Regions from separate parts of the Homo sapiens genome. Here all the other regions are reported to be linked to region 5. Evidence: microRNA targets listed by miRTarBase, many of them from high-throughput screens and not tested one by one. Region 5 holds a microRNA gene; each other region holds the end of a gene's coding sequence.

Region 1 (4,329 bases), not on the chromosome of region 5:
ACTGAATCCAGGAAGTGTCAGTTAAATGGTCTTAATTAAAATGATAGTTGTTCAGAATGGCAAAATGAATCATACTGGAACACCAAAGGTCTGTTTTGCATTCGCTGAAGAAAGGTTACTTTTAGTAGGATAATTCTATAAAATGTAACTTGCATAGAAAGGCTTTATTATGGGTTCTGTCTGTCACAAATAGCATCAAATCAATCATCTCAGTTCTGGAATATGAGATTCACTACATTAAATTAATACTTTCATTCCAAAATAGAAATTCATATTTTAAACCACTGAAATTGATATAAACCACTGCTTTAATATTGTAAACCTAAATGTCCAACTATAATGACCAACTTATCTAATAATGAAAACTGCAGTAGCAGAACTATTAAGCAGATCTTTATAATTAACTTATGAAGACTATTTAACATAGAAAAATATTTATATGTAAAAAACACAGACCCAAATTACATATTCTCTATAAGTATATGGTTAAAAAACCTGCAAGAAAATATACCTAAATGCTAATGTTCATTGCATTCAGATGATAGAATTATGGATTTTATCCATAGATTTTTCTTCTAGATTTTATAGTTTTTAAAAATTATGATGCCCCTTATATTTATATTGGGAAATATACATTTAAACAAACTATTATTTGGCTACCATGCTAATATTCACAACCATGTGGCACTAGCCTAAAATAAACTTTTCAGAAGAAACTAAATTATTCTATCTAAATATTCTGGGAAACGTTTAAGTGATATTGGAATCTCTATCAAAATTTCCACACCAGAGTGAAGAAAGACAAATTAGATGTGGGATGAAAGTTGTTCTCACTGATAAGTGAGAGCTAAATGATGAGAACACATGGACACATAAAGGGCAACAACACACACTGGGGTCTATTGGAGGGTGGAGGGTAGGAGGAGGGAGAGGATCAGGAAAAATTACTAATGGGTACTAGGCTTAACACCTGGGTGATGAAATCATCTATACAACAAACCCCCATGACGTAAGTTTACCTATGAAACAAACTGGCACATGTACCCCTGAACTTAAAAGTTGTTAAAAAAAAAATTTTTTTAAGAGAGATGAAAGTGACTCAAGAAGCTGTGTCACCAAATCTTTGAGAGCTATGTCACCAAATCAAAAAATAACAGAAAACCAGACAAGATCATAAGAAATCATTTGCACAATCAAGTGGCATCATTCCAAACCACTGGAGGAGCAATGCCCGCTTTCTTTTTAAAATTCTCCTGGGAAAATTACTCCTCAGCCTCCTTTATAAATCCTTGAGGAAATGTCAAGTTCTTTCACGACAAGAAAAACTCTCAGCTGGGCACAGTGGCTCACACCTGTAATCCCAGCACTTTGGGAAGCTGAGGTGGGCAGATGCTTGAGCTCAGGAGTTTAAGACCAGCCTGGACAACATGGCAAAATGTAGTCTCTACAAAAAGATACAAAAATTAGCTGGGCATGGTGGTACATACCTGTAGTCCCAGCTACTCAGGAGGCTGAGGCAGAAGGATCCCTTGAGCCCAGGAAGTCAAGGCTGCAGTGAGCCATATCATGCCACTGCACTCCAGCCTGGGCAAAAGAGCAAGACCCTGTCTCAAAAACAAATAAATAAATACAAACGCTTCTTTACGAAAGTCTCACAAGTTTAGCTGAAAAGAGATATGGACTCTCACATACCTTATTTCAGATCTAAACATGAGTTCCTCATCTATAAAATGGAGCTAATATCACCAATACTATTGGATCATGAACAGAATTAAACCAGTTATTGGTAAATCCCCCAAAATAATAAACAAGCCATGTTTATTCCCTCATTCTATCTTACCTCTTCTCTTAGTGTTTCTCACAGTGTGGAATACCACCATTGCATCAGAATCACTGAGCACTCGCCACAAAGGTTGGTTTCATAAATCCCAGAGGCATCATGGTCCCTCTTTTTTTTTTTTTTTTTTTTTTAGAGACAGGGTCTTGCCCTGTTGCCCAGACTGGAGTACAGTGGCACAATCAAGGCTCACTGCAACCTCTGCAACCTTCTGCCTCCTGGGCTCAAGCAATCCTCCCACCTCAGCCTCCTAAGTAGCGGGGACTACAGGTGGTGCCACCACACCCAGCTAGTTTTTGTATTTTTTTGTAGAGATGGGGTTTCACCATGGCACCCAGGCTGGTCTTGACCTTCCGGGCTCAAGCAATCCGCCCACCTCAGCCTCCCGAGACTATAATCCCTGCTGGGATTACAGATGTGAGCCAACATCCCTGGCCTTAATTCTTTTATTATTTAACAAAAATTTTTTAGAGATAAGATCTCTTGTCTGTTGCCCAAGTGGGAGTGTAGTGGCGCAATCATAACTCACTGCAGCCTCAAACTACTGGGCTCAATCAATCACCCTGCCTTAGCCTCCCTAGTAGCTGGGACTGTCGGCCCACACCTGGATAATTTTTTATTTTTTGTAGAGATGAGGTCTTACTATGTTGCCCAGGCTGGTCTCAAACTCCTGGCCTCAAGCAATCCTCCTGCCTGGCCTCCCAAAGTGCTGGGATTACAGGCTTGAGCTACCACACCCTGCCATGACTCTTTAATTCTGCATTTTTGTCAGATACTACAAGTGATCCTTAGGTACTGTAAAGCGTAAGGACCATTAAAATTAAACTATTTTAATATATTTTATTACCTCATTAGGCTCAGAAACAATTAAAAATCTTCTTTCCCCCTAAAATACTTTAAAAACTTGAAGGTGTTCCTCAAGGACAGGAAAGTAAGATCTGGGGCCCTCCTATTTTAAATTAAAAACCCAAATTATTTGACCCATTCTTCTAAGGGTATATATTGTTCATACTTCAAGCATCTGTCTTCCTCTCTAAAGCCTCCCTAGTTTCTTCATCTGTCTACTTAGGAGCAACTTAAACTAGACTATAATCTATCACAGCTCAAAAAGAAAAGAGTACTTACTAAATGATCCCAAATTAAACTCGTTTAAAATTAATAAGTCAAATAAAATTAATAATTCCATTCTTCTTAGATAGCCAGTAGGAATAGCAGCTTCTTCCAAGCATGAGAGAATGGGTGTGCCTTTTATGCCCAAATCAAGAAATACCAAAAAACAAACAAACAAACAAACAAAAAACTGTCATGAATTTTAGTATCTTATTAATTTCTAATTAGATTTTAACTTCTAATTTTGGTAAGTAGTTCAAAATAACAACAACAACAACAAAAAAAAAAACACCTGAAACTAGTGGAAAAAACTTCCACAGCTTTATAATATCGTAGCATTCTTTACACAAAAGTCAATTCCTAAACCCTCAAATTTCAGAACATAAAAATAAATTTCCATTTACAGATTTCCCCCTTCCAGTTCCAAAAGTAGTTATTCTAGAGTAAGTATTCAACACATAAAATTTAGCTGAATCAAATAAAAAACAATCACCAAATGCAAATATCAATTCCAAAGCACAGATTTTATATATACTGCTTTCATATTTCCCTTTTGCTTCTTTTCTAGATAAAAGCAGGAAATTGTAAATATTCACTAAAAAACTCGAACCAAGCACATTGGCCTTTTCAAGTAATTCAGAAAAGGTAGATCATCAAGAGAAACTCCTGAGACACAGCAGTCTTCAGTGCATTCACAAGAGCCTCTGACTATAAGCTTTCTCTAGTTAACCGCCAGAAGATGGATTACTTGTGCTATGCATGCAGATGCACTCAATTTCCTTTACCAGATAAGCTACAAACACTCTACTACCAACCAAACTTGTCCCTTCCATCAAAACATTTTTCATACTCTTTAGCAAAGTAGTCACCCCTCCTAGGAGAAGCTAATTCAAATACACTCATTAGCATCTTTGGTTACAAGAGCAATATAGTGTGTAGATGCAGTTAAGAGTTCTACCATGGCTAAGTCAACATTGGATAAAATCCTATAGGTAGATATAAATGTAACCTGCATTTTCTAAGCTCCTTATAAGTCATCATATTAAGTCCAGATCTTTTTGAAATTTTATACTTATTAAGGGCAGTCATCTCTCACTGGGGCCACTTTCTGTAACTCAGGTCAATTGAGAAGGTCATTGAATATGATTCCTCCAGTCCCTTCCAAGACAGGCTAGGTTTCCAAGGGGCACACAAAGGACAAGAACATGTCCAGCTGGTTCTTCACAATAACTTCATCTGGATGCAGCTTGTGCGGTAGATAATGGGCCAGGGTCATCTCCCAGGCATCGACGAGATATACTCCAACCCCTGAGAACATCCTCCGAAGGATGGTGTCCAGCTGAAAGTTGTACCAGTCGCTGTTGAAAAGGCTCACCTCAGGT
Region 2 (4,374 bases), not on the chromosome of region 5:
TCCTGGGCCCAGGGTTATTTTGCCGGCACCTCTGCAGCCAGTAATCCATAACTCTAGTCATCACGGTTCCCTGACAAGAGAGCTTGCAAAGCACCCCCACCTTGAGTTCTGGTCCTTCCCTGGAGCTTTAGACAGGCTTCCTGGCTAATGATTTGTAGAAACTACCATTTTTAGAGTGGCTTTACTTTAACAACAACAACAAAAGTGAACTATAAATATTAAAACTTCTTATCAGCCTCGCCAATGAGAAAACTCCCTCCCTGCATTCCTCAGGCCCTTTTGCAACAACCTAAATATTTTTAATCCTCAGGTAGATACAGACATTGGAAGATCAAAAATTACACCAGGGCCACAGGAACTTCAGCTCACCGGGCTTGCAAGCCTACATTTGTATTCATGAGCTCAGCTTGTATGCTTGTTCTCTTATTTTGCTTCATTTTTAATTTAGGAAAAGATGGCTAATATATTAGATCACTTTCACTGCTGGGTCTTGTCAGGCTTCAGAAGTCTTTAAGGACAGACTGCTAAAAGAGTAAAAGGGAAGAAAGCAGAAAATGTGTCAGGGAAATGGAGTTCCTATCATTTCACTCACAAATTCTGCCTTTTAAATGTAGTCCTTCTACCAACGGTTCAGTGAAAGATGGTTTCCTTATTGTCATTTATTAGCCATGACAGGCAGCAACATTGGCTCAGATACAGTCTCCCTTCACCACAATTATCTAGTAATGCCTGCGAGGCAAAAGACTGCACAAAACTCCCTCCTTCTGGAAAGCTTCTCCCCAAGGCACCAGTTCAAAGCAAACCTCTATTAACTGGAACATGAACATCTGCAGAATTCTCTGGATAGGACAATTCTACTATTCTTATAGTGATCCTAGAAACGAAGACATAATCACTCACACTCCAGTCACCAGGAGACCAGGGTCGGTTCATAGGTGGAAGCATCACAACCCCCCAGCGACAGCATCTGCCCCCAAATAAACACCCACAACTGACCTCAGTACCAGGACTCCCCTTTTAGCAAGGACCCTTCCTGTCAACCTCCCCTCAAAGACAGAAAAAGAAAAAAGTCAATTTTTTTTCACTGAAACTGAATGTAACAACCAGACAAGATATAAGATAGTATCAAAATTACATAAATTAGATGCCCTACTGGCTTATCAGCCCCTAGACATATTTATCAATGTGATGTGATGAAAATGACACACTCCATCCTAACAGGACTCACAACTCTTGTGACTTGCGGCAATAGAGAAATCTCTAATTTTCTACCTTTAAGTCTACTGATTCTTTTTTCCACATACCTTTTGTTTTATGTATTTTGGAGCAAACACAGGGCGAGGAGTTTGGAGGAGAAAAGAGAAGGAAATTTAGGAGAGAAGAGAAGAGAGACTTGGAAAGAGGATAAGGTGAGAAGTCAGCAAAGGGCAGAACTCAGGACTGAAGCCTTCCGGGAGGACAGAGGCCTGGGCCCTACCAGATAGATGGCCACACCTGGGACCAGGGGCAGGGTACACAGGAGAGAGCGTAGGGCTAGCGGCTGCCTTCGCATTTTACATAAATCTGATCCATAAAGCAGCCCCAGACATCAACCCTGGGGAACGCACACAGCTTGGGCATCTCAAATTATTCTTTGAGCATTAAAACATATGTAATATGCTTCGGAGACAATACAGAAAGGACAGGAGCAGAAAATTAAGCATATAATTATAATAACATAAAAATGTACATGCTTTGGTAGGGTAGATTTTAATAAGATTTTAATAATATTGGTAAGGAGCCAAATTACAGAATACCCTAGAATGTGGAATACAAAATCTCAGAGACAAAATAAAAACTCATGAAAATATAAGAGCACTTTAAAAAGGTAATAATCTTTAGGATAAAGAAAGCCTTTTCTCAACACAGGTACTGAGCATGTTTAATAAAAATTAAATGAGATTAAAGAGAAGGGGCACAGCCACACGCTCCCCGCCCCGCGGTGATTAGGAAGGTGATGCTTGTGTAGGTGAAAGCATGGAGCCAGGGCACAGAAGAGCTCCGAACACCAACAGTGCTGCAGTAAGCTGTCTCCACGTGGGTGGAATTTCTCACAATCCACTCACGGGATAGGAATTAATTTTCTCTCCAGTTGCAGAGGGGCCTTGTACATGAACTGCGTTGGCATGCGGAGGAGGGGCAACACATCCATGTTGGGGACCCCTCCCATCCACAGCCCCAGCTGCCACCACGGCAGGGCATGGGCTTTGGGGGCAACAAGGAGAGACAGGCTGTCTCCTCTAGGAACAACTCATTATTCAGCTAAACGAAATGGAAGAGCTCCATGTGACCAACAAACCCAAATTGAGCCAAAACAACAGGCGTCCCCACCCCCCAGAGGGATAATGTGCCACCACCCTGTGTGCAGTGGGAGAGCAGGAATGGAGGAAATATTCCTGGTTCAGTTACACTCCTCGTCTGTCAGGACAGATGTGCCACCCTATCTCGGATTCCGGGAGGGTGGCTGGGGGTTTCCCTCAACTCTGCAGCAAACACTTCAATGCTACTGTCATTTGAGGCCTAATTTTCTTCCAAGGGCACTATATGCCATGCTTCACTTGGGCCAGATGTTCAGATCAGTGTGTCTGCTCGTCCCCATTAAGAACACAACCACAATTATTTATTTGTCCTTCCAGCACATGTAGCAGTGAAGAGAGGCTGCCGGATCGCAGCAGATGACAGACAGCTGATGCTCCTCTGAAGAGCCACCAGCATCCCAGCCAGCCAGGACACAAGAAGGGGAGGCACTCTCGTTCTAGCCCTGTGCACCAGGCCACCACAGGCTCCCCTATTTTAAACCCTAAAGCAATAGTTCAAACACATGTAGATTCCATGTGACAAGAGAGACAGTAAGGAAGATTTGAGGCTTTATATTCTTTAGATGCCTACTTTTGCCATACTGGCTAGTAAGAAGTTATGTGTAACTTCAAGATGAAAGGCATTAGCAACCTCTTAGAAGACGATAATCCCAATCTTCTGGAGATTGAATGAGATGTAACTCACTGAAGCTTTTGACTCGGTCTGCTGTTAATTGAATCAAAGTCAATGACAATCTTGCTGCACTTCGGTATGAATTTCCTAAAAATAAAAACAAAATACAATTATTATCTGGTGAGTAGTGAAAGCAATTTGTTTACTTTGGCTTAACTCATATTTTCTGTGCAGAGAAAAATATGTCCTGGGATTCACTTGCTATTTTCTCTCTATAGGAGCCAATTATAGTGCACCATACCAAGAGAAACACAGAGCAGAAAAGACTAAGACAAAAAAAGATGCATGGGGTGGTGTGGTTTGTATGTTTTCAGCTCTCTGAGTTCACGAATTATTGGGGAGTCAAAGGATTTCTAACAAGTCAGCTGCACAACATGATATCCGATTACTAGTTTTCCCATCAGATTTATCTTATTTTCTAGAAAAATTTCTGCAGCCAACTTGGAGTCTCTCTAATGCAAAAAAATAGTAAATTTTCTTTTGCCGCTTATATATAGCAAAAAACGACTACCTTTAGTGAGGAGTAATTTTTCAAATTACATTCTAAAAATGCAAACATAAACCAACTTTTTTTTTTTTTTTTTTGCTCATTAACTTTTCACTTGTTCCTCATTTCTTCTACAACAATTAAAAAGAAGACATTTGGGAACAAAACAAATTCTTTTAAGAATCACTGAACAAGAGAGTATACAAATAATTTGAATTTAAAGTCTCAGAAGGCACCACGGTTGAGTTCATGAGATACACTGAGCTGTATCCCTAATGACCAGCACAAGGGGCCAGGGCACGTCACCTATGACCATGGTCCCACTGCTGCTGAACGCCAATACCATGAAGCGCTGGAAAACTTTACAGTCCCAAAGGAATTTTCTGCCATGAATCAAAGGTAGTTGAACTTACTTGCAAGTAAAATATAGCTCACAACCATTTCTTAGCAAAGATAATCATAAAAATCTGTAAGACTTCAAATCTCAATGCAAAATGTTGCTGTAAAAAGAATCCCCAGGTGGCTCACACCTGTAATCCCAGCACTTTGGGAGGCTGAGGCAGGCAGCTCATGAGGTCATCCTGGCCAACATGGTGAAACCCCGTCTCTACTGAAAGTACAAAAAAATTAGCTGGGTGTGGCAGGGGAGGCTGAGGCAGGAGAACCGCTTGAACCTGAGAAGCGGAGGTTGCAGTGAGCCAGGATCGCACCACTGCACTCTAGCCTGGTGACAGAGCGAGACTCCGTCTCAAAAAAAAAAGAGAGAATCCCCAATGTTTCAATCTGGCAGGCTACTTTCATCCTAAATTTTCTATGCCAAAGTTGTTACATTTGCAAAATTCACCAAGGTTTGGCAT
Region 3 (4,374 bases), not on the chromosome of region 5:
AGACACAGCACCAGCTCAGCCCTTAGCTCATCGCCCCTGCTGCAACCAGGGGACACATCTCTGTGCTAGCATTCCTGGGGCGGCCCACCCCATCCAGCCTTCCCTATCCACACCTGCCTGGCCCTGCGTGCCTCCACCTTCTGCATCTGCTGGGCCGGGGACCATCTCCCACACCCCCACGGTGCTGGCTGCCCTCCACCGTATGGAGAGTTTCATTCTGTCATTTGCATTGTGCATGAAACATCTCACACTTAGAGACAAGAGAAGGGGTTTGTGTTTCTTTTTAATCCTGCTTTCCCACTCCAGTCTGCAGTTAGGGACCCACATGCAGACAGGTCTCACCCAGCATAGTGGCTGGGTGAGAGCTGGGACTCAAATCCGAGCTGCGTGCCCAGGTCCCCAGCTGCCCCACTGTGGGCAGGAATTCCACACCCACATGCAACGCTCCCACAAGGTCAGCCAAACAGAGCACTCCGCAGCCTGGAGATGGCAGGCCAGGGTGTGGCCACTGCACCAGGCAGGAGGTGCGGGCAGGCAGCTGGCAGGAGGTGGGGCAGGCACCTCATCTCATCAGGCCTGTACTGGCAGAGGCAGAGCCATGACCTGACCCTGGTGCTGGGCTGCCGGCTCCCTCCTGCTGGCTCGCAGATGGCATCACCCAGGTGGTAACGCAAAGGCTCTTGGGTGTGTGAGAGGGGGAGATGTTGTCTGTGCTAGAGTTTGCAGAGATGGCAGCCTCTGCTGTGATCTTGTGCTTCTCCCCAGATCCTGAGGAGGATGAAGGGGCTGGCCCTGGAGGCCGAGAGTGAGCTGGAGAGACAAGACGAAGCCCTGGATGGCGTTGCAGCAGCTGTGGACAGGGCAACCTTGACCATCGACAAGCACAACAGGCGGATGAAGAGGCTGACCTAGGGGCAGAACGTCCCTGCATTCCTGTCTCACCCTGCACATCCCGCTGAGATGGAGGGCTGGGCGGCAGTGCCAGGGCTGCAGAGGCCTGTGGCCCTCCGGAGTGGTCTTCCTCTGGATGGGGCTGCTACTGTGGGGCTGCTTCTGCACCAGGGGCCTCCCCAGGTGTGCACCATGCCTGCCTCCCACTTGGCTGTCCCTGCTGCTGGGCAGGACCCGGCCACATGTTCTGCGGATGCTGCAGAAGTGTGGACCATGGCGGGACCCCAAGGACACTTGGCACAGGCCTGGAAGAGGCCGCCCTCGTCTTGTCTCGGCTCCCTTTCATGGACAGACTGGCCTTCTTAGCTGTACTATAAATTTGTGAGTGAAGTTAGAGCCCAGCTCACTTAGCCAGCTCACTTTGAGGGCATCCTATAAACACCCAACTGTTCTTTTATCGTCTCGGTTTTAGCCAAAAGTGAAATTAGCATGACTGCATCTTTCAAACAAAAATATTGATTTCTGCTTTTAGGGCCCCGTTTCCATCCAGAAATAAAGGGAAATGCTGGCTTCAGAGTGGTTTTTGAAGATGGGTGCCAGTGTTTCCACCTGGTGCCTTGTGTCTGGGTCAGTGGCCACTCCCTCAGAGGCCCTGGGGTAGGTGAGCATGGCCTCTGGCGGGACTGCGCGTCACATTGCGGGTGGTGCCCCTTTGCCATGCTGCTTTCAGATGCCCCGTGCAGGGCTGCAAGGAAGGGTGCGGGCACATGGGAGGCGAGTCCCAGGATGGTGCCACGGCCCAGCCTGTGGGGCCTCCACGCTGGTGCACCCAATGCCCAGTGGTGCTGCCTTCCCAGGGCTGCTCAGTGAGCCTCACACACAGGGGCCCTCGCAGCTTTGCAGCCAGAAGCCCCACGTTGAGATATCCTGGGCGTGCTCCCTCCAAAGGTTCTGGGGAGGACCCTGCACGGCCGCCTGCCACAGGTCCAGGGCCCAACCTAATCCAGGATGGCCTGGTCTTGATGTCACTCACTGAGAATGTCTGCTAAGACCCCAGTTCCACAGGAGGTCCTGCTCTGAGGCTCCAGCTGGACTAGGGGCTGCAATGCCAGTCGCCAGAGCCAGTGCAGGTGCCTGGCAGGAAAACTGGGAAGCAGCCTCTCTAGAAAGCCACAGCCCAGGGAGCTCTGATTTTTTTTTTTTTTTTTTTTTTTTGAGAGGGAGTTTCACTCTTGTTGCCCAGGCTGGAGTGCAATGGCATGATCTCAGCTCACCACAACCTCCGCCTCCCAGGTTCAAGCGATTCTCCTGCCTCAGCCTCCCGAGTAGCTGGGATTACAGGCATGCGCCACCACACCTGGCTAACTTTGTATTTTTAGTAGAGATGGGGTTTCTCCATGTTGGTCAGCCTGGTCTCAACCTCTCGACCTCAAGTGATCCGCCCGCCTCAGCCTCCCACAGTGCTGAGATTACAGGCGTGAGCCACTGCACCCAGCACTCTGATGTTATTTTTTGTTTGATCTGGGAAATTGTTTTCTGCTTTTTCTTATTTGGTTTATACTTAGCAGCCTGCAGAAGGAGACCTTGCCCTGTCCCCTCTGGGGTCCTTCCACTAAGGCCACAGGTGAGTGAGTGCTCCCAGCCTGTCTGGACACCCCAAGGAGGCCAGTGTTGGCCCTCAAGCCTAGCCCAAGGCATGCGGACACCATGGCCCCCCCTCCTGTCAGTGCTGGGAGCCGGCAGCAAGGGCTCACCATGCCTGCAGCCACCGTGCAGACCCCCATCAAGCCTGGAAGAGGCTGCACCCTGTCCTCAGGACCTCACAGTGTGAGTGGGGTCTCCTCTGTCCCTGACCCCTCGCTGTTCTCAGGACTTCACAGTGTGGGTGGGGTCTCCCCTGTCCCTGACCTCTCACTGTCAGCAAGTCCTTGCAATATCAGGTGAGGCCTTTTGTGTCACTTGACCATTCCTTGTCCACTGGACCTCAAAACTAACATGATATACAGTAGTAAGAATGTAGAAACTTTCCCACTAAAATCACGACCAAGGCCCATACATCCGCTCTCACCATCTCCTTTCAGCACTTTAAGCTCTAACAGATGGAACAAGGCAAGAAAAGGAAGTTAAAGTTTAATGATACTGAAAGAAGAAACAAACTCTCTTTGTTCACAAATGACATTTTCCAGGTAGAAAGTGTAAAAAGGGATCAAGAAAATCCCCTAGAATAATGAACAACTATTCAAGATTTCAAAATATACAAAAGTTAATCACTTTCCTATATACCAACAATGGATGAGTGGATTTGAAGTTAAAAACAAAGTACTTCTACTTTAGCACCCCCAAACAATAAAATACTTAGGTACAAGTCTAAAAAAAGTGTACTCTTTCTATATATATGAGAAAAACTACAAAACCCTGATGAACAAAAGAAGAACCAAATAAATGGAGAAAAATTCCATGTTTATGGATAAGAAGACTCAGTATTTTCAACATGTTTGTTCCTTCCAGCTTGATCTATAGATTCAATGCAATTTCAATCAAAATCCCTGCAAGTTATTTTGTGGATATTAACAGATGATCCTAAAGTTTTTATGGAGAGGCAAAAGACCCAGAATAATCAATTCAATACTGAAGGAGAGGAGCAGAGTTGGAGGACTGACGCTACCTGACTAGAAGACTTACTACAAAGCTGCAGTTACCAAACCAGTGTGTTATTGGTAAAAGGAGAGACAAATAATAGAACAGATTAGGGGACCCAGAAATAGACCCATATAAATATAGTCAACTCATCTTCTGAGAAGATTCAAAGGCACCACAATGCAGAAAATGGTCCCACAATGGTGCTGGGACAACTAGATGTCCGCATGTGCAAAAGAAATCAAACAGACCCTACACCCTAAACAGAAATTAATGAAAAGGAGCTGGGCGCGGTGGCTCATGCCTGTAATCCCAGCACTTTGGGAAGCCAAGGCAGGTGGATCACTTGAGGTCAGGAGTTCGAGACCAGCCTGGCCAACATGGTGAAACCCTGTCTCTACTAAAAATACAAAATTAGCTGGGCATGATGGCGAGCACCTGTGATCCCAGCTACTCGGGAGGCTGAGGCAGGAGAATTGCTTGAACCTGGGAGGCGGAGGTGAGACAAGATCACGCCACTGCACTCCAGCCTGGGTGACAGGGTGAGATTCTGTCTCAAAAAAAAAAAAAAAATTATTCAAAGGGATCATAGACCTAAAAGTAAAATGCAAACTAGAAATGTCCTGGAATATATCATAGGAGAAAATGTAGGTTACCTTAGGTACGATGATAGCTTATAAATTTTTTTCACTCATTTAATTGTTAATATCTGTGGGTACATAATAGGTATTTATGGGGCACATGAGATGTTTTGATACAGACATGCAATGTCTGTATTTTTAGTAGAGACAGGGTTTCTATGCTTTTTTACAAACAATCCAATTATACTCTTTTAGTAATTTTTAA
Region 4 (4,374 bases), not on the chromosome of region 5:
TCCTGCCTGTAATCCCAGCATTTTGGGAGGCTGAAGTGGGTGGATCACTTGAGGCCAGGAGTTTGCGACCAGCCTGGCCAACATGGCGAAACCCCACCTCTGCTAAAAATACAAAAATTAGCCAGGTGTAGTGGTGCACACCAGTAGTTCCAGCTATTTGGGAGGCCGAGGCAGGAGAATCACTTGAACCTGGGAGGCGGAGGTTGCAGTGAGCTGAGACTACACCACTGCACTCCAGCCTGGGCAGCAGAGCAAGACTCTGTCTCAAAAAAAAAAAAGGATTTTGTGGTTGGGCATGGTGGCTCATGCCTATAATCCTAGCACTTTGGAAGGCCAAGGCAGGCGGATCACTTGAGTCCAGGAGTTTAAGATCAGCCTGGGCAACATGGCGAAATCTCATCTCTACAAAAGGTACAAAAAAAATTAGCCAGGCATGGTGGTTGCGTGCCTATAATCCCAGATGTTCGGGAGACTGAGGTAGGAGAATCGCTTGAGCCTGGGGAGACGTAGGTTGCAGTGAGCTGAGATCATACCACTGTACTCCAGCCTGGGTGACACAATGAAAACCTGTCTTAAAAAAAAAAAAAAAAGAAAAGAAAAGAAAATCTTGTAATGTTATGAATTTTTATGAGCTTTCATATGCTAATAATTGTTTTGATTTCTTCTTTGAGTAGTATAATGTTCCTTTTTCGTTGTAGGGAACCTACCTGACTCTTTCAGGTAGTGGTTTCCTCAGCAAATATGTTCAACCAAGGCATAGAGATGAGATGGATAGCTTTCTTTTCCAAGAATGGGGTTAGGTTTTTCTATATTCAAAGGAGATGAATGTTGATAAGTTCAGGGTATTTTCTTAGCTTTAATTTCTAACAAAATTAAACTGTCCAAATTAAACATACAGGGATGCTTGTTTTTAAGAGAAAAAAACTTTAGTAAAAGATTTCATTTTCCCTAGCATAAATTATTCTATTTGGGATTAAGAAAAAGTATGTTTCCCATTTCCCATATTTGTTCTTGTTGTTTGTTCTTGCCAATACTTTATTTTAATCAGTGGATTTCCTCTCCCCTCTGCTTCTTTCACATTCTCCACCAGTCAGACACAGTCTTCTGCACCATGGATGGGACCAAATTATGGAGTGCAACCGCCTCAAGGGCAAAATGGCAGCATGTTGCCCAATCAGCCTTCTGGGTATCGAGTGGCAGGGTATGAAACCCAGTGAATAAGGACTCCAGAATCTAAAGCCAGTGGCTTGAGGCTACAGGGAGTGTAGTAAAGCCGTTGTTTACTTAAAGATTTATCAAATCAGTCAGTGCAAATGTCAGATACAATGTATTTATTTAAAAGATTCATTTTTAATCATGAAATTACTTATCATCCACATTGTTTTAAAAAGAAACAAGATGCTGGATGTCTGCCAATTTTTGCCTTCATTACCTTTTTTGATAAAGTTTCTCAGATCCTTGTTTCAAACACAAATGCAGGGATTGCTGCCACTTTTTAACTATTAAGAGGCAGAAAATTGCACAATATTGAACTTTTTTCCACTGAAGTAGTGTGCAGTTCTAGTTTGCATTCCTGATATGATTTAAAACATGTAATATAAAGATGTTAAAAAAAAAAACCAAAACTGTGCAGAGTCTAGAAGTTGTTTGTCATCTTCAGCTTGTGCACAATTCTGTTTTAGGTTAAAAAAAGGCATTGTTTGAGCTGTCCCATCTCCACTGTTATCCCTTTGGGGTTTTTTAATATAAATTATTAGTTTACATCATTTTTGTATCTACATCTTTTTTCACAAATTTGTCTTGCCTTATTAAAGTTCTGTAAAATATACTTAAATGGAAAAAATGATGTTCATTTAGATTGAAAACTTTTCTCAGATGGATTGATAATTGCATTCATCTTGTGTTTTATATGAGAAGGTGCCTCAAGAATTTCCTGTTGGATTTGTTTAAAAGGATTTTTATCTTTCGTGATAAACTTTGCTGTGTACCAGGAACTATAAAAACAAAAACTTGTTACTAAAGAAAATATCTGAAATGTGATAAGTTCTTATGCCATGTTAATTTCATGTGTCAACTTCAACATTTACATGTATTATTTCATTATGTAAAATGTTTTAGCAATTTAATATTTTGCACAGTTAGCAAACTTTGTATGTCATTTCCTTCAAGGCATCATGCAGAGTTGACATGAGATTTATAAGGTTTTAAGTTGTTTGCATGTGAAAATCAAATACATACTTTGGTAGTCTTTGAATACAAAGTCATCTGCTCTTGTTTTTCAAGAATTTTGAGACACAAAGTTGTATGTAAAGGAATATATTAATTTGCCGTTTTCTAGGTAGATTTGCTCAAAAAGAGTGAATCAACTTAATATGTACAAATGATAGCTGTGAAACTGTAGAATATCTTTGTGTCAGGCTTGGAGTTCATTGTGACCTCCAAATTTTGCCTGAAGGACCAGCTGGGCAAAGCATCTTTTAAATGTTCAGAGGCCAAAAGATAAACAAAAAAAAAACCTTAAAATCCTACCTCTTTAAACAGCCTTCAGATAAGAGAATCCTCAGTGCAATCATTATTTTGATTCGTTTGGTACCTGTTTTCCTGGAGTTCCCGATTTTATTATTTTGGGGTGGCTCCAAGCATTAAGAGGTTTAATCTTTGATGGCATTGTTCTAGTTTTGAAATTTCTAGTATATTTCAGAGTCTCTTAGAAGACTTGTGTGGGAAGTTTCACTTTGTTTTCAGTGAAGATCACAAACCTCCTTCTTCCTTTACTCAAGAGGAAAGGTCCCAGTATACATATTTGAATGGTTGATGGTTTTCAAGACCTTCAGGGAGCTCCCTGCATTTTACCTAGAAACAGAAAAGGCCCGCAAAATCTTAAGTTTCCTGGCCTGCATTTCCCGGGTAGGGGCAAATGACTCCAAGCTGGTCTCTAAGCCAATACCCTTATAAACCAGAGCCCAGGAAAGACAGCTCGAGTGTATAATTCTCTGGAGCTCAATTCTATGCAGTTGTGCTGATATTTCATTAAGTCACTGTGTATTTTTAAGTGTTGATACATTAAAAGTCGCTTTATGGAAGATGAGTAAATTTTTTAAATACTTGGAAATTTTATTTCCTTGTTAACTTCTACAGATCAGGGCATGCAACCAAAAGCAGCTTAAATGAAATATTTTAAAATAAAATATCAGGAAGCTATTTTTAGATTTCTTCTGGCTTATGTTTCTACTTTAGGACCCTCATTGTTCTCTTATTAAAAAAAATTATTTCCTGTGCATCTCATGGACTGCAGGGTAAATTATTTGGGCATAAATAATTTAAATAGTTTTCTTTCATTTTGACTATCTCCAGTAATAACAGTTTTTATTATCCAGCATATTGGCTTATTGCACAAATCTTAAAATGTACATTGACTACTTTCTGAGAAGAAAGTGGTATCAGTACTCATGATGAAAAGGTTACTACTGAACAAATTCACATTTCAGGAACACCTCTATCTTTGGTTTAAATCTTACTCTTAGTTTTTCCGTCTAAAAATCATACTGGTATTAGTATCAGGTAAGGAAATTAAAGTTTTTAAAATGGTTTCATTCTCTGCAATATGCAAAATTTAGATTTTACTTTCTGGTACTGTAAAGAACCTGAAGTGATTTACACTTAATGGGTGATTAATCCAGTATTCTTTACCCTGAATGTTTGGATATTAAAGTTCCTTTATGTTTTCTATAACCTGTGGGATCTTCTTGCAGTGATTATTGTGTGTGAGATTTTTTTTCTTTTTGGTCTATCCATATTGTTATATTCACTCAGGTATTTTTTTTTTAATCTTATTCCAGAATCAGTGGTTTATATTGGGTTACTGTTTAACACCAAATGGAATTGGCATTCTGCAGATTTAATTAATTATGAAACCAGGGTCTCATTTTCCTTGCTGATACTTGTTGAAAATGAGATTCACATTCTAGTCTTTATTTTCCTCCTGTTTTGTCCCTGTGCTTGTACATCTTCCTTTTATTTGTGTGTTATAGTTCTATTCCATTTGAGAAGGCAGTTGGTAAGAACTAGATTGCATGTACAAAGACAGGTTTACTAAGTGCTGTACAGTGGTCCTGAGGTTACAGTTGAATTAGAAAAACGAAATGTACTTACAGGAAATAAGAAAGCAAACCTTTCAAATGAGAGTGATGATTTCTTTAAAAAAAATCAGTTTTTTTCTCTCAAATAATGTTCTTTATTTCACGAAATCGTCAATCTTAAGCATGAGCAGGGATAAACAACTCCTAGAAGGAACTCAATTCATTCTTCCTGGATTTTCTCTGTTGTTAAATCACAAAAATGATAGTCCCCAATCGTTTCTTTATAGGAGGTTAT
Region 5 (4,374 bases):
TCCCGGCCGGCGCGCTCATCCCACCCGCCCACCGCAGGGTGAACTGCAGCGAGTACTTCCCGCTGTTCCTCGCCACGCTCTGGGTCGCCGGCATCTTCTTTCATGAAGGTCGGGGTGTGGGGCAGGGGCGCACGCGCTGGACCCCCGGGACCCGCGCAGGGCGCTCACCAGGCCCGTGCGTACCTCTCGCAGGGGCGGCGGCCCTGTGCGGCCTGGTCTACCTGTTCGCGCGCCTCCGCTACTTCCAGGGCTACGCGCGCTCCGCGCAGCTCAGGTGAGGGCCGGGCGGGGAGCGGGGCGGGGCCGGGGAAAGATCGCGGGCGGGCGGGGCTCCTGGGGAGCGGGACCGAAGCTGGGGGCGGGCGACGGGCCGGAGCCCAGCGCCTTTGGGGATTCGGTGGGCGAGCCCTGGCGGCGGCCAGAGGAAGTCCCCGTGGGGCCAGGGTTGCGGCGGGGAAGAAGCGGGCCTCCTCGCGCCACCTCCCCGCTGACCGCCGCCCGCAGGCTGGCACCGCTGTACGCGAGCGCGCGCGCCCTCTGGCTGCTGGTGGCGCTGGCTGCGCTCGGCCTGCTCGCCCACTTCCTCCCGGCCGCGCTGCGCGCCGCGCTCCTCGGACGGCTCCGGACGCTGCTGCCGTGGGCCTGAGACCAAGGCCCCCGGGCCGACGGAGCCGGGAAAGAAGAGCCGGAGCCTCCAGCTGCCCCGGGGAGGGGCGCTCGCTTCCGCATCCTAGTCTCTATCATTAAAGTTCTAGTGACCGAGACCCGGGCTGCGTTCTCTGGGTCCGCGGGGGTGGCGCACCGCGGGCTACGGAGCCTGGAGGGGCCCAGCCCGAGTCCGGGCAGCCCGGGGCGGGCTTCCTAGTGGCGGCGTGAGAGTGGCTGCGAAGGAACGAGCCCTCCCCCTGGGGCGGGACTGGATCCGGTCTTCACCTCCTACCCCACTCCCTACTCAGCCTCGGGGTCACAAGGCCGCCCAGTCCTGCCGGGGTTCACCCTCCTAGCGCTCAGCGGTCTCCTCACCGGTCCCCCTCCTCAGGGGCCTTCCCTCGACTCTCAGCCGCCGCAGTCCCTCGTCCCCTGGCCTTCACAGCTGACACTAGATAGAGCCTGTGGCTCTCTCCCCAGGTGAGGGCAGGGGTTTTTCTTTTGGTCAGCACTGGATCCCCCTCGTTAACTGTAGGTGTTCAGGGCAGCCCTCCGAGGTCCGCAGAGCTGCGGGCACCATGGGAACGAAGTGAGTCAGTGACAGGCGGTCTCAAGGAAATGTCCAGAAGCCTTGGGGATCCAGGGGAGGCCCACAGAAACAAAGAAGTGACTTTTAGCCAAGTATGCAGGAGAAACGGAGAAAGGAGAGCTTTCCAAGGAGGGGCAACAGTGTGTGCAAAGGCCCTGAGGTGAGCGGGAGACCCTAATGTGCCAGAGGAGTGTCGGGGACCCAGGATGAGGACCAAGCTGAGACACACGGAGGGGAACAAGGAGGCTGGGAAATGCCTTCAGCTTGAGGAGCTAAGGGAAGGCCTCATCGCAGGCCTTGGACATGGGGGAGACATTCGGGGGACCTGCTATAGGCATTGTGGTCCCAGATTCTGAGCTGGTTTCACCAGTGACAGACTTTGCGGCCTGATCCTAGGAAGGGGGGTACGCTGGCGCCGAGGTGGCACTGCAGCTGCACAGCCAGGGGCTGGACCCCGCGCCTGCAGGCCAGGCTGGCTCCTTGACTTAGCAGGGAAAGGTCGCTGCTGATGCTGGCTGGGGAGGCCCAGTGCCAGGCTTAGTTGGCATGTTGGGGCACAGACCAAATGAAGCCAACCGCAGGGGCAGAGGGAGATGCCCAGGGCGCTCACATTTGAGGCACACACTTCATTAACCCTTTATTACAAGTCACGCTCTTATAGAAGTATATGTGGACTTACGTGAAAAAATCAAATGTATCCAAGAATAAAAAACACAGCACATAAAGTAGTATATGCATTCCAGTGTTCGCGCCAGAGACGGCGGGCGCCCAAGTAAAAGCTCTTCTAAAACGGCCTGACTGGGGCAGGCCGGGTGCGAACGGTTCCGGGCCTCAGGCACAGTGTGGGGGCCGCCTGCCTCCTCCGCGGCCCGGCGGGCGGGGGCAGCACCAGCTCCTAGGGCCTCCGGGCCAGCGGCGGACCCCAGGCCGGCCCAAGCCCGACGCCAGGCAGAACCCTTTGGGCGGGGCCGTATCTGGCCCTCCGGGGACGGCAGTGACGACACCCCCAGAAATGTGGGCTTCAGGGCTGGCCACAGGGTACCCTCAGAAGCCCGCAGCTTAGTCGGCCTTTTTCAGGAAGATCTGGAAGAGCCGGACCCAGGGTCAGCAGGGCCTCTGAGCTCCGCCAGGGTCTCCCTGGCTGCTCCCCGTGCCTGGCCTGGCCCTGCCCAGCCTCACCTCGCTCAGAATCACCCACACAGGGGAGTCCGTCTGGATCGAGAGGCGCAGTGCTTCCAGAGGGCCGAAGGCTGGGTCCACCTCTCCCTCTGCCACTCCCTTGTAGAAGGAGCCTGTGGGAGGGCAGTGGTGAGAGGGTGTCCCTGAACCCCAGCCCACGCTCTCCCCCAAACCCTACCCACCGATCTGGAGGTAGCCGTCGGGGCTCCGAGGGTACCGGAGGGTGGCGGTGCGGCCCTCCTGCAGGGCCTCCTTGTCTGACTGAGGGTTCTGGGGGCAGAATCAAGGGCTGAGGCAGGTGGTCACAGGAGGCCCGGCTTCAGTGCACACCACACCCACCGAACTTACGTCGAAGGGCAGCACCTCCACAGACGTGTTGAAGAGCTTGTCCTCCGGGTGCTCGATGTTCCCACTGCGGAAGAAGAACCTGCAGCCAGGCAGGCCTGTGAGCTGCTGCAGGGGCAGCGTTCCAGCACAGCACCCAGGGCCCAGCAGAGAAAGGCCAGGCCTGCGCCAGGAGGGCCCCCCAGGCAGCTGTCAGGCTGTGCAAAGAGACCAGGGCCTTCCTCTGGGAGGATGGTGACAGGAAACATCCCTGAGCTCCTAGGGGCTGCCTGACTTAGTCCTCACAAGGTAGCTACCATTACGAGGCCCACTTCAGATGCGGAAACTGAAGAACGTGAGGATAACTTGCCGGTGAAGCCTACACCCTGGGGGCCACCCAGCCCCGCCCCCATCGCAGACCCATGGTGCTGGCACTGACCGCTCCAGTCTTAGAGGTTGGAAGAAGCGGAAGCGGATGAAGTCCCCCGCGGCAGGGGTGAAGGCCCAGAAGAAGTCCTCGCGCAGGTAGGCTTTCTCCAGGGTGAAGTGCTGGTATGTCTTCAGGCTCGTGCTCACCTCTGCTGGCGGGTTCACATGCTCCTTCCGCAGCGCCTGCTTTCCAAAGTCTTTGTCCTGCAGCGGAGGAGGGACAGCAGTGATGGCGTGGGCCCCGACCTTGATCCCGGCCTAGGGAGAGCGTGCAGTGCAGCCCACCTTCAGTTTCTGGATCTTGCCAGCCAGCGAGGAGTGAGTGCCCACGTGCTGGAAGAGGGACGGTTTGAAGCGGATCCGCAGGTTGGCTTTCTGCCGGTCACAGTGCTTCTGTGGAGGGTGGGCAACACCCCAGGGCTCGGCTTAGCCCTCCTTCCTCAACACGGCCTCTCCTGGGGACTACCAGGGCCCTCCCACAGCTGACAGTGCTCTATGTGAGCAGATGCAAGGACAGGGACACAGTTTGGGGTGGAGGCTGCCTGCCCCTTGGCCCTGCCCCTGCCAGTCCCGCCAGCTCTTGCTCACCGCATCCTTCTCGGGGTTGCAGACTTTCACCCACAGAATATGGTCCAGGAGCCAGTCGATGGGCTTGTCCCGGTAGAACATGAGAATGAACTCTACAATCAGGCTCAGGTCCAGCGACTTGAACATCTTACCTGGTGGGGAGGGGCCTGAGTGGGCAGTGCTGCTCTGCCTACTTCCTTTCTCCCTGCAGCGGCCCCCGAGTCCCACAGCAAACCCAGGGGCAGGCTTCAGGCAGGTGTGGGCATAACGGGGCAGGGAGGCAGACAGGTGATGAGGGCAGACATGTCTGATGCACAGGCAATGAGAACAGGCCAGGTGGGGCTGTAGCACGCACACCAGGCAGGGCCCACCTGGGCAAAGGCTCACAGTGGACACAGTGGGACTGGGAGAGAGGATGGCAGAGGCAGGTGGGACTGAAAGGCACCGTCAGGTAAGGGGAGGGGCACACCAATGAAGCCCAGCTGGGAGAACTCCAGGATCATCCAGTCCTCTGAAGGCTGCTGCAGTGCAAAGTTCTTCATGGTGCTCAGGTAGTTGGGCTTGGCCACGATGTCATCCTCCAGCTGCGAGGTGAGCAGAGAGGGGCTGGGGCTGAGGAAGGGCACCCAGATGGACCA
Region 6 (4,374 bases), not on the chromosome of region 5:
GTCTCCTGTCCAGGAAGTTCCGGGGCAGCAAGCGGTCACAGTCGGTGACCAGGGGGGAGCGGGAGCAGCGTGACATGCTGGGCTCCCTGCGGGACTCGGCCCTGTTTGTCAAGAATGCCATGTCCCTGCCCCAGCTCAATGAGAAGGAGGCCGCGGAGAAGGGCACCAGTAAGCTGCCCAAGAGCCTGTCATCCAGCCCCGTGAAGAAGGCCAATGACGGGGAGGGCGGCGATGAGGAGGCGGGCACGGAGGAGGCAGTGCCCCGTCGGAATGGGGCCGCGGGTCCACATTCCCCTGACCCCCTCCTCGATGAGCAGGCCTTTGGGGATCTGACAGATCTGCCTGTCGTGCCCAAGGCCACGTACGGGCTGAAGCATGCGGAGTCCATCATGTCCTTCCACATCGACCTGGGGCCCTCCATGCTGGGTGACGTCCTCAGCATCATGGACAAGGAGGAGTGGGACCCCGAGGAGGGGGAGGGTGGTTACCATGGCGATGAGGGCGCCGCTGGCACCATCACCCAGGCTCCCCCGTACGCCGTGGCGGCCCCTCCCCTGGCAAGGCAGGAAGGCAAGGCTGGCCCAGACTTGCCCTCCCTCCCCTCCCATGCTCTGGAGGATGAGGGGTGGGCAGCAGCGGCCCCCAGCCCCGGCTCAGCCCGCAGCATGGGCAGCCACACCACACGGGACAGCAGCTCCCTCTCCAGCTGCACCTCAGGCATCCTGGAGGAGCGCAGCCCTGCCTTCCGGGGGCCGGACAGGGCCCGGGCTGCTGTCTCAAGACAGCCAGACAAGGAGTTCTCCTTCATGGATGAGGAGGAGGAGGATGAAATCCGTGTGTGAGGCGGACAGTGGGTGGCCACCGGGAGCTCTTGGCTGCATCTTCTCCCTGCCCCCACCCCACTATGACCTTTGACCCTACGGCGCAGGGGCAGCCAGGACCCTTGATTCAGACCATGGACCCTGGACCTTGTAGATGAGGGACACTGGCCTGGCCCTCGGGTCTTCGGAGGACGTAGGGGGCTGGCATGGGTGCCGACTGGCTGCCTGACTTCATCATGCTCCCTGCACTTAGGCTGCGTGGGACAAGGGCTGTGTTGTCACAGCAGGAATAGGTTTTCCTCTGTTGGCCTCCCTTTCCTCCACCCTGGCCTCAAATGGATGCCAGATGCCAACCCCAGTTCTGGCCACGTACAGCCAGCGGGTCAGCCCAGAGGCAGCCTCAGCTCCAGGGCTAAGGACTCTCGGCTCCCATTTTCTCTGCTGGCGTTTCTGCTGTGCCCAGCAGTGGCTGCTGGGGAAGCAGCTGCAGCAGGAGGGAGACGGTCTTGCCTCTCAGCCCCTCCCTGCCCCACCCCAGCTCCTGCCCTGGAAATCTGGAGCCCCTTGGAGCTGAGCTGGACGGGGGGCCAGCTGCGAGCATGTGCACTAAACGCAGCCCTTTCCAGGGGAAGAGAACAGGATGGAGAATGGAAGGAAAGCCCCCCAGGCTTCGTGAATTGCAAGAAGGGACCCTTCCAGGATGACACTAGGAACAGGGCTAGGGCACTCGCTCAGTCCCTAGGGGCTTGTTTGTTCTTTATTATTGTGTTTAAATCCTTATAGAGCAATATCAGGATGGTGTTAATAGGTCTGCCTCAGAATGAGAATCAATCCTTTTAGAAAACCTTTATACTAAGCCTCCTCTTCAAAATTCACAGTGGCGATTAGCGGACTGGAGTCTGGTGGCGATTAGCGGACTGGAGTCTGGGGACATCCGTGGCAAAGACACCAGCTCAACTTTAGTGCTTCCCAACTTTATTTAGAATGACATGGGGTGGGTGTCTGGTGTGTGTGTTTTCCCTACGCACCTCCCATAGCTATTAACAACTGAGGAAGGCCAGTGCAGAATATTTTTGGAGAACGATTTTTTTTTTAAATAATATATCATTCCTATGGGGGGAAAGCCTTTTTTTTCTTTTTGGCTGAGTTATTCCCTCCCTCCCCTCAATACCCTCAGTACTGACTACTTCCCTTTCTTTTCTCAGGCCTCCCCCCACCGACTTTTGAGGCCAGGGTTGGCCAGATTTAGCAAAACCAAAACAGAGTGCTGAGTTAAACGCAAATTTCAGGTAAACAAAAGATAATTTTCTAGCATTAATATGCCCCACGCAATATTTGGAACACTTATGTGAAAAATGATTTGTTTTTCTGAAATTCACGTTTCTCTCTGAGTCCTGTAACTGTCCCCGAGGGGATTGAGCAGAAGCTCGGGTATGAGCCCTGAGGTTGACTGCCGGTTATTTTTCTGTCCTGGGAACAGCCTGACCCACCTCCCTGTCTCCATGTAGCCAGTGAGGGGAGGGGGAGACACAGAACCAACCACAGCCAGGGGCGTCCCCATGGCGACTGTGGCCCGGCCCCTCCTCTCTTGCCTGACTCTCCTCTCTTGCCTGACTCTAGACACTAACTTAGTTCCAGGTTCGGTGCCCTGTTGGTGCTCCTGTTTCCAATAGCTTAGGTCCCATGGTGGGGGAGGAACCTCAGGGGCTATGCAGCCCCCGCCAGCTGCCCTCGAATCCCGTCCAGGCCAATTCCAGATTCTAAACTGATTTTTTTCATGATATTGTCAAAACAGTGAGGAAACATTAAAAAAAAAGCCCTAAAGCACGCCTGGTGTCTGTCTCTGCTTTTTGGGAGGGCTATTTCAGGATGGGGGTGGGGTCTGGACCCAGGTCCTAGAGCTGTCCAGGGGGGCCTGAGGTGGCTTCTGTCTCTCTGTCCGTGAGGACCCGCCCTTCCTGCGATGCTGTCTGCCTGGGCAGGCCCCTTCAGAGTCTGGGGACTCAGGTGTCCCTAACTGCCATCTCTTGGAAGCCCTTGGCACTTGGTCGCTTAGCTGTTCTGTGCCTCCCTCTCCTGCTCTGTAAAATGGGTATCCTGCCACTCTTAGAGGGTTGAGGCACAGAAACAGTGACATGGGCTTTTTGTGGGGGAGGGGGTTGGTTTTTTGTTTTTTTTTGTTTTTTTTTTTTGTTGTTGTTGTTTTGTTTTTTTTGAGATGGAGTCTCACTCTGTCGCCCAGGTTGGAGTGCAGGGGTGTGATCTCAGCTCACTGCAACCTCCGCTTCCTAGGTGCAAGCGATTCTCCTGCCTCAGCCTCCCAACTAGCTAGGATTACAGGCGTGCGCCACTACACCCAGCTAATTTTTGTATTTTTAGTAGATACTGGGTTTCACCATGTTGGCCAGGTTGGTCTCCAACTCCTGACCTCAAGTGATCCGCCCACCTTGGCTTCCCAAAATGCTGGGATTACAGGTGTGAGCCACCGTGCCGGTCGACATGGGCTTTTTATACAGTTGTGATTAGGATGAGAGTGACTGTGTTCTCCCCAGCCCCCTGGTGTCCTGGTGCACGGAACTGTCACCACCAGAAAGTGGCTGGCCCTGAAGGCAGTTTCTGCATGATGCTGGGAGCGGGGCTACCACCTCCTCTTTCCCCTTTTACCGTTAAGCCTGGAAAATCAGCTTACAAGTGGCAGGTCCTCAGTTCAACCTCACTTCTCAGGGAGATAGAAGCTCCACATCCCCATTTTCCAGATGGAGAAAGATGATCAGATAAGCCTCGAGGCCGCCTTCTCTAATGCCCAGAATTCATTCAAAACTCCTGCCCTTCTCACCCCACCACTCCTGGGCACATCAAAACCTCGGGATATAAAGTCAGGGGGTGAGGGTCTAGTGGCCCCTGAACCCACTGCCCTGCCCCTGCCCTACCACCTCCTTCCCTTGAATCATGTTCCCCTCTTTCTGGACAGCTTCAGAAGGGAGCCCTGGTCTGCGTAGGGCTGGCTCACTGCTTGTTGAAGCCCCCGCTTGCTCTCAGGAAATCTGGGGAAATCTTGGGGATCTCAATGTGGCTGAGTTCCTGGTGGAAACCCTGCACTCTCCCCTGAGCACCCACAGAGAAATGTGAGTTCCCCACTCATCTCCCTGGAAAGCAATTAGAGGCATAATTAAAATGTCACTCAGGTCCCTCCCTCTGTCCCTAGACAGGCTCATTCGTGTGGGAGTTATGAGCGGGGACTTCTGGCTGCCCCAAGGGAAGAAGAGAGAGGGAGGAGAGCTGGGGCCCATTGGGAGACGGGTCCCTAGGGGCTACAGTCTAGCTCAGGGATGACTGGGGAGAGGAAGGTACTGTTCAGGCGAGGACCAGGCAGATGAGAAGGGGCTGTGCCTCCCAGACACAGTGCAACCTCCCAAGAGAGAGAAATGACTGTACCTACACCGACTAACCAGGGACTCCCTAGGGGCCCAGAGAAACCAGCCGCCCCGAGCCCCAGAATCTGTTTCTTGACCATTGATGGAAAAGCTCTGAGCATTCAAGAAGACCCGGGGAC
Region 7 (4,374 bases), not on the chromosome of region 5:
CTCAGCCTGGGGCTCCAGAGGCTCACCACATTTGAGTCCAAGGTAATGTTGATACCCTTGGCTGGTCTAAGAAACACTGAGTGACTGCCAGTGTTTTCTTACGATGACACCTGAGTGTGTACCACCTGGGGCTGTGAACTTGGCCCTGAAAGGCAGCTTGGGGCAGATGGGCCCATTCGTTCTCCCACACATGCCTGTTTTCCTCCTAGTGCACCAGGAAGTCTCCAGTGACGGCACGAGCTGGACTCTGCTGGGCCTGCCTGCAGTGTCCCACCTTGACTCCGGAGACTACATCTGCCAAGCCAAGAACTTCCTGGGAGCCTCTGAAACTGTTATCTCCTTGATTGTCACTGAGCCACCGACTTCCACAGAACACAGTGGGAGCCCAGGAGCACTATGGGCAAGGACAGGTGGCGGAGGGGAAGCTGCTGCTTACAACAACAAGCTGGTGGCCAGGCATGTCCCCCAGATTCCCAAACCCGCTGTCCTGGCCACTGGACCCTCTGTGCCCAGCACAAAGGAGGAGCTGACCCTTGAGCACTTCCAGATGGATGCCCTGGGAGAGCTCTCTGATGGGCGGGCAGGACCCTCAGAGGCACGAATGGTGAGGTCTGTGAAGGTGGTGGGGGACACTTACCACAGCGTGTCCTTGGTGTGGAAGGCACCCCAGGCTAAGAACACAACTGCCTTCAGTGTCCTCTACGCGGTCTTTGGGCAGCACAGCATGCGGCGGGTGATTGTGCAGCCTGGGAAGACCAGAGTGACCATCACTGGGCTGTTGCCCAAGACCAAGTATGTGGCGTGTGTCTGTGTGCAGGGCCTGGTGCCCCGGAAGGAGCAGTGTGTTATTTTCTCCACCAATGAAGTGGTGGATGCTGAGAACACTCAGCAGCTTATCAATGTGGTGGTGATCAGTGTGGCCATCGTCATTGCCCTGCCTCTCACGCTGCTTGTCTGCTGCAGTGCTCTTCAGAAGCGCTGCCGAAAGTGCTTCAACAAGGACTCCACTGAGGCCACAGTTACCTACGTCAACCTAGAGAGACTGGGCTACAGCGAGGACGGCTTGGAGGAGCTGTCCCGGCACAGTGTCAGCGAGGCTGACAGGCTTCTCTCAGCTCGTTCCAGTGTGGACTTTCAGGCCTTTGGAGTCAAAGGGGGCAGGAGAATCAATGAGTACTTCTGCTGAGGGATATGCCTCCGCAACTCACACACCTGCCTGCCCACGCTCCTTCTTTAGCTCTGACACCTGAGTACACGATCACCCACTCTTACCTGCTCGGGTACCTGCTTACTCAGATACTTACACACAACAACAGCAGCAGCAGCTGCTACTGCAACAACCGCTAACACTTGTTAAGCACTTACTACAGACTAGAAAGTGTTCTAAGTGCTAAATTCTTGTAACAATCATTTGCAGCAGGCATCACTATTCTCTCCATTTCCCTGGGGTGGGGGGTTAAGAAACTTGCCTGTATCAGTCAGCTTTTGCTGTATAACAAATGAAAGCAAAATCTTGGTGATGTATAGCAGTGAACACTTATTTTCACACTCACAGGCCTGTGGGTTGATTAGGGTGGCTCTGCTCTGTGTGTTTCATTTGGAGCCTGGGCTGGAGAGTAGCAGTGGGTACCTGGGGCAGGTTTCTCTCGTGGTGAGGTTGAATGATAATAGAGGAATGATTGTTCATGCAATGCCTGTTATGTTCTTAGTTCAGAACTGGTATACTGCCACTTCTGTCCATATTCTATCTGCCAAAGCAAGTCTCATGGCCAAACCCAAGTTTGATGGGGCAAGTAAGGACACTTCTCCCCTGGAGGTGATGGTAGAGCAAGGAATATGTGCTGAACAGTGATTTAATCTGCATTGCCCAGGATTACACAGCTAGGCAAATTTAGATGGCTCTGAGATTTGGACCACACAGTTGGGATCCACGGTTAAAAGTCCTTACCATCCTCCTATACTGCACCTTGATTACATTTATGCTAATTCATAGGCACTCACACACACCATCTCTCTATGCATTAGCCATATTGGTAGTTACCCATCCTCACTAACACACACACTACACTCATAACCCACTGTGCCCTCAGTGAATTCTAATATTTATTCTCTGGGTGCTATTCTGCCTAGAGACAATCATTTGATTTTTCGATAAATGCTAGAGTTTGAGACAATGCCCAAGAGAACATTGCTCATTTGCTTTCAGAATGTCAGGCTGGAGGGATCCAAGAGACCTCATTACACTCTGTGCTGTCTGGCACATTCACCTCTGTCCCATGCAGCAGCCTTTGTGATTCTTACCAAAACCTACCTGGGTTCTTGAGGGTGTCTCGGAGCCTTCCTGGTTGCTCATCAAGTTACTTCAAAGGAAAATTGCTGTTTGCTTTTTCTTGGAGCTAGGAAACCACTGAGATGTTGTCTCTGTGCACTGGGGAAAGTGAATGTTCCCAGCAGAAGGCTCAATTTGTTCCTTATTTATAAAGCCGATCTCTGGCATGAGGAGCATCCAGGGTACCTGTGCCAAGTCCTTTGGGTAACAACTGAAGAAATTTTGGGACAGCAAGTGATCCAAGAAAATTGTTTTGCTAGTATTATGCAAGAGACTCCAAGTATTTGTAAGTATTATGTCATGTGATTTATTAGACATAAGCCAGTGTGATGCAGTGCTTCTTACTCCCCTCACATTTACAAAAGACCTTACAACATATTTCACTCAGTTTTCTCACATTTGATATTCATGACAACCCACTATGGAGGCTGGGCTGTTTGATTTTACAGAAGAAGACCAAAGAGGTGAATGATTTATACAAGGAAGTGATGAATTCTCTTTCAGAATCTAGTTCTTTGACAACTTTCTCATCAGGCTGATGGTCTTTATTCAGTATCCATCCCTGCAATGTGGTCTACAGAAGGTTCACTATAGAAATCAACTTTTTAAAAATCACTGAAACCTGGGATCAGAACCATGAGAGCACCCATGCACATGAGCATGGAATTTCCATTCTTGGATATCTTCTGCCACCACCTGGAGGGTGCACCTGACTATAACTTGTGGACCATAGACATTGGTAAGAGAGGCTGTTTTGTTGTAAGATGACAAAGACACTGTGTACATTGGGAGCCAGCAAACTTTTTTCCTGTAAAGAAAGGCAAATAGTAAATATTTTAGGCTCTGTTGCTACTACTTAACTCTGCTGATGGGATGCAAAAGCAGCCATAGACAATATGTAAATTAGTGGGTATGGATGTCTTCCAATAAGACACTTTTTACAAAAACAGGTGACAGGCTGGGTTTGACCCTGAGATTGTAGTTTGTTTACCCCTTATGAAAATTTAGAAAGATATTTCTGGTGAGTTTTGGAGACCCAAGACTCAATTCTGACTCTTTGATAAATGAGAGTGATAGACACCCCCAAAATTAGGACAAATGTAAATGCAGTAGATGAAAGCAGTCATCTGTTGAAGTGATCAGGATGTTGCCTTTAAATGATGGTCTGAACCAATCATGATGGGACAGTTATTGACCTAAAGACAAGTAACATTTAGCCAGTTTTATTGAGTCTTGTTTGAAGAAAAATCAGGAACTTAAAAGCAAGAAATCTGTAGTATTTATCTGATGTTAACAGAGACAGAAAGAGAGAGAGAGAATTCAATCTTGCCAATGATCCAATGGTTTATTGGGACCTATTTTCATGGTCTGGATGGAAAGGCCTCTGATATGGTTTGACTGTGTCCCCACCCAAATCTCACCTTGAATTGTAATAACCCCCATGAATCAAGGGTGGGGCCAGGTGGAGATCATTGAATCACGGGGGCAGTTTCCCCCATACTGTTCTCGTGGTAATGAATAAGTCGCATGAGATTTGATGGTTTTATAAATGGAAGTACCCCTGCACAAATCCTTTTGCCTGATGTCATGTAAGACATGCCTTCGCTCCTCCTTGCCTTCTGCCATGATTGTGAGGTCTGCCCAGCCATGTGGAACTGTGAGTCCACTAAACCTCTTTTTCTTTATAAATTACCCAGTCTTGGGTATGTGTTTACCAGCAGTGTGAAAATGGACTAATACAGCCTCCAAGATGATAAGCCTCCCAAAACTCATCTGTCAACCTTCCTTTGTGTATCCTGTCTTCCCTGGTTTGCCCTTGTAGAGAAGAATCATCCTGGATTACGCTCATGAATATTCAAGTCATGGGAAGAAACACATTCTTATTGTAAAAAATAAAATGATGTCTGGCTTACCTTAGTCTTTTAGTATGTGAGTCTGATGAGTATGAGTTAGTCCCTGAAAATTGAATGCCCTCTGAGTATCCTGGCAAAAGAATTTCTGGCCTTCCAATGCTGAAGACCAATTTGGGCCATGGCGAGGCTGCA

What was found. The annotated mature microRNA hsa-miR-1229-3p reads CUCUCACCACUGCCCUCCCACAG and lies in region 5 at 2,530-2,552, opposite strand. An mRNA with a match to its seed (bases 2 to 7 or 8) in the 3' UTR can be bound and repressed. Matches are read on the target gene's strand: a 7mer-m8 pairs with bases 2 to 8, a 7mer-A1 pairs with bases 2 to 7 and ends in A, and an 8mer does both.
Region 1: miRTarBase lists NXPE3 as a target of hsa-miR-1229-3p. Seed matches in the 3' UTR shown: 7mer-A1 at 1,856-1,862 and 7mer-A1 at 828-834.
Region 2: the mRNA of DCTD is a reported target of hsa-miR-1229-3p. Seed matches in the 3' UTR shown: 7mer-A1 at 2,088-2,094.
Region 3: miRTarBase lists SNAP47 as a target of hsa-miR-1229-3p. The part of its 3' UTR that is shown has no 7-base or 8-base seed match.
Region 4: miRTarBase lists TIA1 as a target of hsa-miR-1229-3p. The part of its 3' UTR that is shown has no 7-base or 8-base seed match.
Region 6: miRTarBase lists CDC42EP4 as a target of hsa-miR-1229-3p. The part of its 3' UTR that is shown has no 7-base or 8-base seed match.
Region 7: miRTarBase lists LRIT1 as a target of hsa-miR-1229-3p. The part of its 3' UTR that is shown has no 7-base or 8-base seed match.

What each region holds. Positions count from the first base shown.
Region 1 is chr3:101,821,744-101,826,072 of GRCh38, reverse strand. It overlaps NXPE3 (neurexophilin and PC-esterase domain family member 3), which reads right to left. Exons shown (of 8, transcript NM_145037.4): 8 at 1-4,329. The coding sequence ends at 4,119. Among named protein-coding and RNA genes, the nearest start is that of NFKBIZ, 26 kb to the left of the region's middle.
Region 2 is chr4:182,888,361-182,892,734 of GRCh38, forward strand. DCTD (dCMP deaminase) reads right to left here. Exons shown (of 6, transcript NM_001921.3): 6 at 1,731-3,117. The coding sequence ends at 3,039. Among named protein-coding and RNA genes, the nearest start is that of DCTD, 27 kb to the right of the region's middle.
Region 3 is chr1:227,779,762-227,784,135 of GRCh38, forward strand. It overlaps SNAP47 (synaptosome associated protein 47), which reads left to right. Exons shown (of 5, transcript NM_053052.4): 5 at 766-1,465. The coding sequence ends at 912. Among named protein-coding and RNA genes, the nearest start is that of PRSS38, 34 kb to the right of the region's middle.
Region 4 is chr2:70,209,562-70,213,935 of GRCh38, reverse strand. It overlaps TIA1 (TIA1 cytotoxic granule associated RNA binding protein), which reads left to right. Exons shown (of 13, transcript NM_022173.4): 13 at 1,091-4,374. The coding sequence ends at 1,217. Among named protein-coding and RNA genes, the nearest start is that of C2orf42, 21 kb to the right of the region's middle.
Region 5 is chr5:179,795,749-179,800,122 of GRCh38, forward strand. MIR1229 (microRNA 1229) reads right to left here and starts at 2,598; the gene lies at 2,530-2,598. LTC4S (leukotriene C4 synthase) reads left to right here. Exons shown (of 5, transcript NM_145867.2): 3 at 38-108; 4 at 193-274; 5 at 505-899. The coding sequence ends at 646. It overlaps MGAT4B (alpha-1,3-mannosyl-glycoprotein 4-beta-N-acetylglucosaminyltransferase B), which reads right to left. Exons shown (of 15, transcript NM_014275.5): 8 at 4,206-4,320; 9 at 3,758-3,888; 10 at 3,455-3,562; 11 at 3,180-3,373; 12 at 2,765-2,843; 13 at 2,599-2,686; 14 at 2,417-2,529; 15 at 1,862-2,320. The coding sequence ends at 2,297. RefSeq lists an enhancer at 1-33 and silencers at 1-552, 593-642, 663-822, 667-878.
Region 6 is chr17:73,281,898-73,286,271 of GRCh38, reverse strand. It overlaps CDC42EP4 (CDC42 effector protein 4), which reads left to right. Exons shown (of 2, transcript NM_012121.5): 2 at 1-2,648. The coding sequence ends at 842. Among named protein-coding and RNA genes, the nearest start is that of CPSF4L, 22 kb to the right of the region's middle. RefSeq lists enhancers at 1-413, 969-1,525.
Region 7 is chr10:84,228,739-84,233,112 of GRCh38, reverse strand. It overlaps LRIT1 (leucine rich repeat, Ig-like and transmembrane domains 1), which reads left to right. Exons shown (of 4, transcript NM_015613.3): 4 at 210-1,593. The coding sequence ends at 1,186. Among named protein-coding and RNA genes, the nearest start is that of LRIT2, 5.4 kb to the right of the region's middle.